Homo sapiens: one gene and its partners. The protein of the gene in region 2 purifies or fractionates together with the protein of the main gene of each other region. This does not show direct contact. Each region holds a gene or a part of one and is shown on either strand. Other genes may lie near its edges. The genes, in order: NFX1, ZNF8 and MRRF.

Region 1 (3,652 bases), on a different chromosome or scaffold from region 2:
TTTTCTTTTTTTGTGACCCTGCTGCCCCACACAGCTCTTGAAACATAGTAGGTACTCAGTTCTGACCATTAAAAAGTTCATCCTTATATTGAACTGAAAGCTTCTTTCCTTTCCTTCCTATCCTTTGGTTCAAGTTTTATCCTCCGGAGCAGCATAGTAACTAGTCTGTCTTCTCACAGCTCCCCCTCTCCTTACTGCAAATCAGCTTTTTGCAGTATTCGAAGACATCTATCATTTTGCCCTAAGTGTATATTTCATCAAGCTGAATAGTTTTATTCTGCTAGCTCTTCCTCCTGGACCTTCACTATCTTAATCCCTCTCCAGTTTAATGTGAGATACAGCCCAACCCTTGAAGCCACCATCTACCCAGGGCCTGTTTTTACACCAGCCTATAGTTCTAGTTTCTTGCTTTATCAGGATTATTCTTGGAACCTCAATGTATATGTGAAGCAAAGCAATGTTATACCAGAGTTGTTACTGAATCCTTAAGGCTGGTTAATAATTACCTCTTGCTTTATAGTGAATTATCACAATGTAGTGGCTTATGATAACACACATTTACTATGCCACTGTTTCTGTGGGTCAGATGAATGGGTCCTGGTTAGCTGGGTTCTCTGCTCAGTGTCTCCAAATTTGGCTAGGCATGTGATCTCATCTGAGGCTCAGGGTTCTCTTTCAGTCACTGGTTGTTGGTAGGATTCAGTTCCTTACAGATGTAGGACTGAGGTTCCTGTTTTCTTGCTGGCTGTTGGCCAGGGGTGTCTCTCTCAGCTCCTAGAGGCCACCTGTGTTTCCCTGCCACATGACTCTGTACACAACATGATAGTTTGCTTCTTTGAGGCCTGCGGGAAAGCAGCTGCTGCCACTTCAGATCTCTCTGACTTCTGTTTGATTTTCAACTCTTTTAAAATGGCTTACTTGATTAAGTCAGGCCCACCCATACTCAAGGGGAGGAGATTATATAGGGTATGCATACCAGGGAGGTGGGAATCTGGAAGACCATCTTAGAATTCTATTTAACAAATCTCTTGGGGCCTTAACATTCTCACATTATTCATATCATTTTTGAGAACACTTCATTCATATTTGTTGCATAAATACTATATACCAAGCACTGTTCTAGGTACAGGGAATGCTGATGGAATTTACATTCTGGTAGGGAAGACAGGCAGAAAGCACTTAGATATTTAATATGTCAGGTGGTGATAAGGACTAAAAAGAAATATTAAGAAGGTTAAGAAGACAGAGTGACAAGAGTGCTATTTTACATAGGTTGACCTCTTTGATAAGGAGACATTTGAACAGAGACAAGAATGAAGTACAGAAATGCACCATGTGGCTAGCTTGAGAAAGAGCATTCTAGGCAGAGGGAGGAGCAAATTTAGATGTGGGGAGGGGTATTATAGGCAATGAAGATAGGGGCAGGAAAGGTGGTCAGAGAAATAGCAAGGGCTGGATCATGTGAGTCCCTTGGATTTGGTTCTGAGTAAGATGAGAGGCTGCTGGAAGGTCCTGGGAAGAGGGATGTCATGAACTTACATTCTAAAATAATCACTTAGGGTCTGGATGTGGTGGCTCACATCTGTAATCCCAGCACTTTGGAAGGCCAAGGCAGAAGGATTGCTTAAGCCCAGGAGTTCAAGACCTGCCTGGACAACTTAATGAGACCCCATCTCTGCAAAAGGCAAAAAAATAAAAATTAGCTGGACGTGGTGGCACATGCCTATAGTCCCAGCTACTCAAGAGGTTGAACTAGGAGGATCGCTTGAGCCCAGTGGGTCAAGGCTGCAGTAAGTAGTGGTTGTGCCACTGCACTCTAGCCTGGGTGACAGAATAAGAACCTGTCTCAAAAAAAAAAATATTATTAAGCTGCTGTGTGGAGAATAGGCTCTAAGAAGGCAACAGGACAAGTTAGGAGGCTATTGCAGTTGTTCAGGTAGGAGATGATGGAGACTTAGACTGGAGTAATAGTGTGGAAAAGGTAACAATTGGATAGATTTTGGATGTATTTGGAAGGAAGATTTTATGCCTGAGCAACTTAAAAGAATGGAATTGGCATTTACTGAAGTGTCAAAGCCTAGTAGAGAAAAAGGTGTTTGTCTGTAAAATGTTTCAGTTTGGAATAATTTCAGATTTATAGAAAAGTTGCAAAGATAGTTCAAAGAATTCCCATATATCTTTCACCCAACTTCCTCTAATGTTAACGTCTTACATAACCAGACTGCCTTTGTTAAAACTAAGAAATTAGCACTGGTATAATCATATTAACTAAACTACAGATGTTATTCAGATTTCACCAGTTTTTCTGCCAATGTCCTTTTTCTGTTTGAGGACCCAATCCAGGATACCACGTTGCATTTAGTCATGTCTCCTGAGTCTCCTACCATCTCTGACAGTTTCTTCATCTTTCCTTTTTGGAAAAGATGTTTCTGCTCTTGTTTTATTTACTTCTTATTCAGGGAAGATTTTTGTTTAATTTGGTTAAATTTCTGTAATCCCAGTACTTTGGGAAACCGAGTCAAGAGGATCACCTGAGCCCAGGAGTTCAAGACCATCCTGGGCAACAGAGGTAGACCCCATCTCTACAAAAACTAACAAAAAAATCAGCCAGGTATAGTGGCACACGCTTGTGGTCCCAGCTACTCAGGATGCTGAGGTGGGAGGATCGCTTGGGCCCAGGAGTTTGAAGATGCAGTGAGCCACGATCATGCCACTGCACTCGAGCCTAAACTTTGGTGACGCCTGTAACTTTCACAGAAAGAGGTTGTGGAACAGACTAAATATCACTCATTTATTCCTTTATCCATGAATTTAACAAATATTTAATGGAGCACCTAGTATATGCCAGACACTGGAAATACTACACTCAGCAAGGTAGACAAAACTCTCCCTTCTCCTGAGCTTTCAGTCTCAGGGTGTTCTCTATTTCTTTTGACATTAAACTGAACAATCAGAAAGTAAATCTTAGGAGAGCCAATATTATGGAATATTACAGTGTGCGCTTTTGAGTCAGATAGTTTGACAAGTTTGAATTTTGACTTTTAAATTTCTAGTTGTGTGACCTTGGATAAATGATCTAACTACATGAAGCCAGTTTCTTCATCTGTAAAATGGTACCTATGTTATAGCATTTTTTTTTTTTTTTTTTTTTTTTTTGAGACGGAGTCTCACTCTGGAGTGCAGTGGTGCAATCTCGGCTCACTGCAACCTCCGCCCCCGGGTTCAAGAGATTCTCCTGCCTCATCCTCCTTGGATTACTACTGGGATTACAGCCACACTCCACCACGCCCAGCTAATTTTTGTATTCTTAGTAGAGATGGGGTTTCACCATGTTGGCCAGGATGGTCTTGATCTCCCGACCTCATGATCTGCCCGCCTTGGCCTCCCAAAGTGCTGGTATTACAGGTGTAAGCCACCGTGTCCAACCTGTTACAGCCTTTTTGAGAGGACTAAATAATAATATGTAATGTGCTTGCAATGTTGTATTTAAGGTTAATTTTATTCTTTTAACTTATTTAGACCTGAAAGCAAATAACAATAATATTATGAAATAAATGCAGTGCTAAAAGTATGTACTCAAAAAAGCATATACACACACTCACACTCAGTTTTGAGAGTATCTGGCTGTATTGAAATCTAGAAAGACTTTGCT
Region 2 (3,752 bases):
AAACACGTGAATGGCTCCTTCTCATCACTGAATACTGGATGGCTCCTCTCAGCCTGGCTATGGTAGACTGAGATATATAATGGCCTCCAAGGATATCCAGGTCCTAGTTCCTAGAACCTGTGAATATTACTATATATGGTAAAAGGAACTGTGCAGATGTGATTAGGATTTTCAAACAGAAAAATTATCCTGGATTATCCAGGTGGGCCCTAAATGCAATCACAAGTGTCTTTATAAGAGGTAGACAAAGGGAGCTATGACTATAGAAGACATAAGGCAATATGATCACTGAAGCAACATGCTACAATGCAGGCTTTGAAGACAGGCAAAGGGCCATGAGGCAAGGAATAGAAGGTCTGTACCTCTCACAGCTGGAAAAGACGAGGAAACATTCTACCCTAGAACCTTGGTAGGGAGGGTAGCTCTGCTCATACCTTGATTCCAGACCAGAAAACCGATTTCAGACTTCTGACCTCCAGAACCTAAGAACAAATGTTTTAAGCCACAAAATTTGTAGTGAATTGTTACAGCAGACACAGATAACCAGATAAAACACTGGACCTTGAAGCTCTCCATTCTGGTCCTTGTCTCCTGTGATGGACAGTCTCCAAGATGCTCCCCCACCACCTCTGCCAATGACCTCCAGCCCTGGTGTGGTCCCCTCCAACACTCAACAAGGTTGACTTTGTAACCAGTAAGACACCGTGGAAGTGACAAGAGTGTGAATTCTGAATCCAGGTCATGGAAGGTGTTACAGTTTCTACCTTGCCCTCTCCTGGATCACTTGTTCTGTGGGAAGCCAGATGCCATGTTGCAAGGATCCCTAGCAGTTCCAAAGAGAGGCCTACATGGAGAACAACTGAGGTCTCCTATCAACAGACATGTGAGTGAGCCATCCTGGAGGTGGATCCTCCAGACTCAGGTCTCAGGTGACAACAGCTATGCTGACATCTTCACTGTAACTTCATGGGCCTGAACCAGAACCACCAGCTAGGACATTCCATTACTCCTGTCAGAACTCGTGAGATATTTATTGTTGTTCCAGGTCACGAAGTTTTGAGTTACACAGCAACAGGTAACTAATACACTTTCTCTCAAGCCTTTCTTACGACTCATTCCTTGTCCCCCATCCACAGCAAGAACAAAATAAAACGTGGTAGCATTTCATGCAAATTTGGAGCAACACACATCTGAAAACCTGCAACCTAAGATTATCAAGTCTCACTTTGTGTACCAAATCTGAAATAATGCAAATCCCCATGAACAAACCAACGACAAAAAATAAAAAAAAGTATAATTTCAAAGTTGCAGAGCTTGAGGAAGGATAATTATTGTTGTTTCCTGCCACGCGAGGCAGCTTTATGGAGAACACAGGCCGCAACCACTTTGTCTAGAAAGTGGAGCTCTGATGGCCAGATGGCCCTGCAAACACTGACCGCCCTGCACTGCAGTTCTCCCACAGTCTCGCAGGGGACGACCCTGGTGGTCACTCTCATCACACTCAGTGCGTGGTGACCCATCATTGCCCCCAAGAGGTTGTGCCCAAGCCCCAGGGCAGGGGCTCCGCGGTGCTGGGGTCCCGGTGGGTGTCCGCTGACTCCACGCGTTAAAGCATCTCTATTCGATGATTCTTGCCATCTGGGCACCCGGCCAACGCTACAATTACTGTTATCAGTCAACACGAGGACAGACCTTCCTGGAATGGGCAAGGGTGTCGGCGGGGCGGAGCAGAACGCAGGAGATGGGCCTGCTCGATTCTCTCGGGAATGACCGACCCCAGCCCTGGGGAGGACAGAGCCGCGTGGAGCATGCGCATTCGGGGGCCAGGCGCCTGGTTGGAATCCCGGCCCCCTCTCTGACCAGCCAGGACGGTCACCACGCCCCGACCCGCGTCTGAGTTTCCCCACGTGTCAAGGGCATTAACAGCGGTGCCGCTCTCATCGCGCCGCGAGGTGAAAGGGTCAGTCTGCGCGGGAGACGCTTGCCCGGAGCCCGCCGCCGTCGTTATTGTTGTTATTGTTACCTGAAGCCGGGCCGCCGGCGGCCCCACAGACATCACTCCCGCTACCCCTTCGTCCTCGGGGTCCATGCTGGATCGCCCAGTGAAGGACAGCGCCTGAGGTGATCCCCAGACCAGAGAGGCACTCCAGCCAAAGGGACCACCCGACTCGCCGAACGCCGGACAATGGCGGCCGCACCGGCGACGCGGCGACTACAACTCCCAGTAGGCCGTGCGGCGAACCACAGCCCTCGGCCAATGGGAGTCTCCGCTGGTCTGGCCTTCGACCAATGGAAGCATTATGGCCGATGGCCAATGGGAGCCCCCACCCGCTGGCCTCTGGCCAATGGGAGCACTCAGCTAAGGCTGGTGGGGGCGGTGTTGCTCGGGGCTGCGATGCCCCTTAGGTTGCGGGCAACCAGAGGCCTCACTCGTGGGCAGGAAGCAAGGGCGGACCCCGAGAGATGACTGATTGTGGGGGTGGGGACCGTCTGCTCCTCCTAATGGCTGGGGACCGTGCACGTCTGCGCGGGCCGGACCTGCTCTTCTCGGGAACTTGCGCGGGAGGAGGCCCGGAGCTGCGCCGCTTTACCCTCTGCTCCCCGGTGCCTAAAACGCACACGCATCAAAGTCACAGGACGAGTTAGAGGTTTGTTCATATAAAAGACTTTGGGCTTAGCGGCTGGAAGCGGGGAGGCTGGGAGCGGTGGTTGTGTTACAGGAAAGGGGTCCGATTCAGACCCCAAGGGAGGGTTCTTGGATCTCGCGCAAGAAAAAATTCAGGGCGAGTCCGCAGTGCAAAGTAAAAGCAAGTTTGTTGAGAAAGTAAAGTTGTGAAACAGCTACCCCATAGACAGTAGGACGTTCCTGAAAGTAAGAGGAACGTATGCACCCTAGGTACAATGCTTGTGTATATTTGGGCTAAAAATAGATTTTGGGGAGATGTGCTCTGCTACAAGGGTTTGTGAAAAAGGATTAATTTTCTTACTGTATTTTTCAAGAATCGATATTATTTTTAAAGCAAAATTAGGAATGCCTTTGTTCTCTAGATACCGGGATATCTGGACACTCCCAAGTCTGGGTCTGTTTTAGTACCCATTATTAATTTGTTCCCTTAACCGTAAACATCTAGAGGTTAGGAATACCTACTTTTCTGGGAATGCAGCCCAGCCTCATTTTCCTAGCCCTCACTCAAAATGGAGTCGCTCTGGGTCGAATGCCTCTGACAGCCCTATTGCTTCTCCCTGTGGGTGTTCACTTTGTGATGTGTCTTTTTCTGTGGGTCTGTTGTAGTCCATTAAAATGTTTATTAAAGGTCGGGCGCGGTGGCTAACGCCTATAATCCCAGCACTTTGGGAAGTCGAGGCGGGTGGATCACGATGTCAGGAGCTCGAGACCAACCTGGCCAATATGGTGAAACCCCGTCTCTACTAAAAATACAAAAATTAGCCCGGCGTGGTGGCGGGCACCTGTAGTCCCAGCTTCTCGGGAGGCTGAGGCAGGAGAATCGCTTGAACCTGGGAGGCGGAGGTTGCCGTGAGCCGAGGTCAGGCCACTGCACTCCAGCCTGGGTGACAGAGCAAGACTCCGTCTCAAAAAAAAAATAAAAAGTTATTAAAAAAGAAAAATGGGGAAGCAGATTTCCATTCAAAAATGTTGCATTCAAACCACAACAATTTTTAACTTTTTTAAATTTTACCAAGAGCCAGACACATAGCAGGGAACAGTATAGTTACTTGTTATTTGCTCACCC
Region 3 (3,652 bases), on a different chromosome or scaffold from region 2:
AGGTGAAGTTTCTTGTGCAGGGTTACACACCTAGCAAGTAGCAGAGCTGGCATTCAAATTGAGGCCTGATGTGCTAATGTAAAAGGAAAAAAACAAACTTTTTTTCCTTTTGTACTTTCACACTCAACATGGAACACTTCTGTGACAAGGTGTGTGAGTTTGTTTCCCCCACACACCAAGCAATTCTCCAGCAGACACCAACTGGGTATCCTATAATTCAATTCATTTCTGACATTACCTGGAAATAGTGTCAGATCCCACAGGTTGAGGGCTCCATCTCCCAAGACTGCCAACACTTTTGATGCCAGTCATGAGTCTGGGCCACCCATACTCCTGACTGACCAACTACAAACTAGAGTCCTTGATTTCCTTTGGTTCAGTTAATTTCCTAGGACAGCTCACACAACTCAGGGAAACACGTTCACTGGTTTATTATAAAAGATACAGCTGAACAGCCCAATGAAGGAGGTACACAGGGCAAGGTTGAGGGAGAGGGAGAGGGTGTGGAGCTTCCATGCCTTCTCTGGGCTCACACTCTCTCAGCACCTCACCAATCTGGAAGGAACCACTGTGTCCTGCTGCCTTCATTAGCATTTAGTGAGCACCAATTGTTTGTCAGGTGCTGAACTATGTACTGGCAATACAAAAATGGGAAAGATATGACCCCTGTTTTGGGGGGGTACATAGTGCACTGAACTAAATTGCTGTCTATAATAATCTATTGGGTGGAAAAGTAGGAAGTTCATTCCAGTTCTGCAAGGTGTCTGCTTTCAGAATGGAGCCCACTTTGGTGGTGGCAAGGCCTGGCTGAGTTCTTTCAAAGCAACATCCAACTTCTCTTTGCTCTTTGACTTCCTCCAGATTCTCTCCTGTGCTGGAGGTAATAAGGGTTGCACTTCCCTCTTTACTTACACTGGTGAAACATGCAGTGAGGATTCAAGGTCAAAATTGGGTCAAAGTTAAACTAACACAGTCTCCTGCCCCACTTACCTGTCCTCTAACCCCATCCACCAGCCCTAAGTGGTCATCACATGATCAGAAGTCAGCTGGGGGAAGAGCAGGGATAGATAGAGCAATTAAGGAGCCTCTTTTGGGGTAAGCCACATGACAGGGGCTTTGCAACAGTCTTTCATGAGTGGCCGAAATCCCCCACTCACTGCAAATGTGCTTCTCAAAGATGCAGGATTTTTTAATAAACAGAGGAAATGATAAATTATGTTGTAATTCCACTCCAAAGGCATTTGGTTCTTAACAGCCAAATCCTCTGTAGTCTTTAAATAAACAAAAACTTATTTGGTGAACAGACAGGGAGGAAAATGAAAGATTTTCTGTACTTGGGTTCCACATGTCAACAATTTCTCTCCTGTGTGTATGTTGGCCAAAGCTGTATCATGATAAATGAATAAAGGAAAACCTCGAGCCCAGGGCAGTCAGACAGCTCAGCAAATGGCTTTCAGATGATTACTCAATTTCAGTTGACATTTATCAAAGAGTTTCTCTGTGACTCTGTGTCAGGGCTGTAGTGGTGACAGGGACAAGAATGAGACTACCTGTTTGGATGTGCTGAGAATGAGTAATGCTGGAGCAATTCATTCTCCATCTCTTCTCTCCTACAGCCTCTCTCAAAAAGAAACACTGGGTATGGAAATTCTCACACTTGCCAGAAGAATTAACCACCTCTTCTATTCAGTTTAATGACTTTCAAAGTCCTATGAAATATTCAGGCCAGAGAGAATTTGAGAATTTTTTTCCTGTCTGGTGTGTGTGTGTGTGTGTGTGTGTGTGTGTGTGTGTGTGTGTGTGTGTGTGTGTTGGAAATTACAAAATAAGTTGGAATGCAGAAAGTTAAAAAAAAAATCTCACCAGGCCCTACTCCTTTAAAATTAGGTATATATCTTTCCAGACCTCCTTTCTCTGTGCATATATGTGTGTGTGTGTGTGTGTGTTCGTTTCATTTTGTTTTGCCTTTGAGACAGTGTCTCACTCTGTCGCCCATCATGCAGTGGCACAATCATAGCTCACTGCAGCCTTGAACTCTTTGGCTCATGCAATTCTCCCACCTCAGCCTCCTGAGTAGCTGGGACTGCAGCTATGCACCACCACACCTGGCTTTTTTTTTTTTGCTTTGTTTCCTAGGCTGGTCTCAAACACCTGGCCTCAAGCGGTCCTTCTGCCTCAGCCTCCCAAAGCGCTGGGATTACAAGTGTGAGCCACTCTGCCTGGCCATATATAATTTTTTTTTTTTTTTTTTTGCAATGGAGTCTTGCTCTGTCGCCCACGCTGGAGTGCATTGGCGCAATCTCGGCTCACTGCAACCTCTGCCTCCCTGGTTCAAGCAGTTTTCCCTGCTTCAGCCTCCTGAGTAGCTGGGATTACAGGCGCCCGCCACCACACCCAGCTAATTTTTTATTTTTTTTTAGTAGAGATGGGGTTTCACCATGTTGGCCAGGCTGGTCTTGAACTCCTGACTCAGGTGATCCACCTGTCTCAGCCTCCCAAATTGCTGGGATTACAGGCATGAACCACTGCGCCCGGCCATATAATTTTTTAGAAGGAGAGAGGGGAACTATTCATATTCTGATGTTTGCTTTTTTTTCTTACCCTGTAACAATCATGGTCATCTGTCCATGTGTGTACATAATAGATACAATTTATTATTTCATTGTGATACAGTATTCCATAATATGGGTCTACCATAACTTAATTCACTATTAGCCCATGACACTATTTAAAAATTATTTCACATGCATTGGAGAATGTTTAAAGATGATTTTTTTTTTTAAGAAAAAAGAAAGGCCCCTATTCTAAGATTATCTGATAAGGTCTGCTCTTTCTCCTTCAACCTCAGGCTAACATTTATTGAATGCCTACAGTCGGCCAGGTTCCATGCTAGACCCTTTACACGTGTTCCCACATTGAAACTTCTGATGAATCCTTGTTAATGTAGGTGTTATGATTATCTGTGTTTTTCTGTGAAAAAAACAGGTTCAGAAAGGATATTTAACTTGCCCAAGGTCACACAGGTAGTAAGTGCTAGAATGAAATTTCAAACCCACATCTGACCTTGAAGTAGGTCCTTAATCAGTGTGCTTTGGTTCCCAAGTCTTCGCTGAACACTTACTCAAAAGGGACCTCGCGCTGTTCTGGACCTGGACGGTGATGTGAGAGAAGCAGAAGTCTTGCTTTCATAAAACACATAGCAAGCTGTTCCTAATTAATGACTGCAAGTAAAATAGCATAGTACCTGGCACATTGTAAACACCAAAGAAATGGTAGCTCTTATGGAGACAGTAAAGATTACATATTAATCCCCCACCTGTTTGGCCAACTTCTCTAGAATATGTCAGAGAGCAAGCAAAATGTTCACCAAGCAGTGAATAATGATAATAATAACAACAATAACAGTATTGACAGATCAGTAACTAATATTTGCTTGGTGCTTTTTAGTTTTCAAACTGCTTCTACATTCTTTGTTGCATTGAAACCACTCAGTGAAACTTTGCGGTTAGACAAAGAGTGATCATAAAAGCTTGTATCCTCAAAAGCCACTTTGAGGCTTTCTTTTGCCCTAATAGACGGTCATTTTTCATGATGTGCATTTGAAATGATATGTTCCCTATTTTGGGGGTACAAATTTTGATATGTATGCAGG

The links.
Region 1: the proteins of ZNF8 (region 2) and NFX1 purify together in Homo sapiens (co-immunoprecipitation; one large-scale study listed by IntAct). This does not show direct contact.
Region 3: the proteins of ZNF8 (region 2) and MRRF purify together in Homo sapiens (affinity purification with mass spectrometry; one large-scale study listed by BioGRID and IntAct). This does not show direct contact.

The regions. Positions count from the first base shown.
Region 1 is NC_000009.12:33,296,936-33,300,587, forward strand, and holds part of NFX1 (transcriptional repressor NF-X1), read left to right. Parts: intron 1-3,652. UniProt on the Homo sapiens protein: Binds to the X-box motif of MHC class II genes and represses their expression. May play an important role in regulating the duration of an inflammatory response by limiting the period in which MHC class II molecules are induced by interferon-gamma.
Region 2 is NC_000019.10:58,277,419-58,281,170, reverse strand, and holds the start of ZNF8 (zinc finger protein 8), read right to left. Parts: upstream 2,217-3,752; 5' UTR 2,090-2,216; coding exon 2,024-2,089; exon of another isoform or gene 562-2,023; intron 1-561. UniProt on the Homo sapiens protein: Transcriptional repressor. May modulate BMP and TGF-beta signal transduction, through its interaction with SMAD proteins.
Region 3 is NC_000009.12:122,323,874-122,327,525, forward strand, and holds part of MRRF (ribosome-recycling factor, mitochondrial isoform 1 precursor), read left to right. Parts: 3' UTR 1-3,652. UniProt on the Homo sapiens protein: Responsible for the disassembly of ribosomes from messenger RNA at the termination of mitochondrial protein biosynthesis. Acts in collaboration with GFM2. Promotes mitochondrial ribosome recycling by dissolution of intersubunit contacts.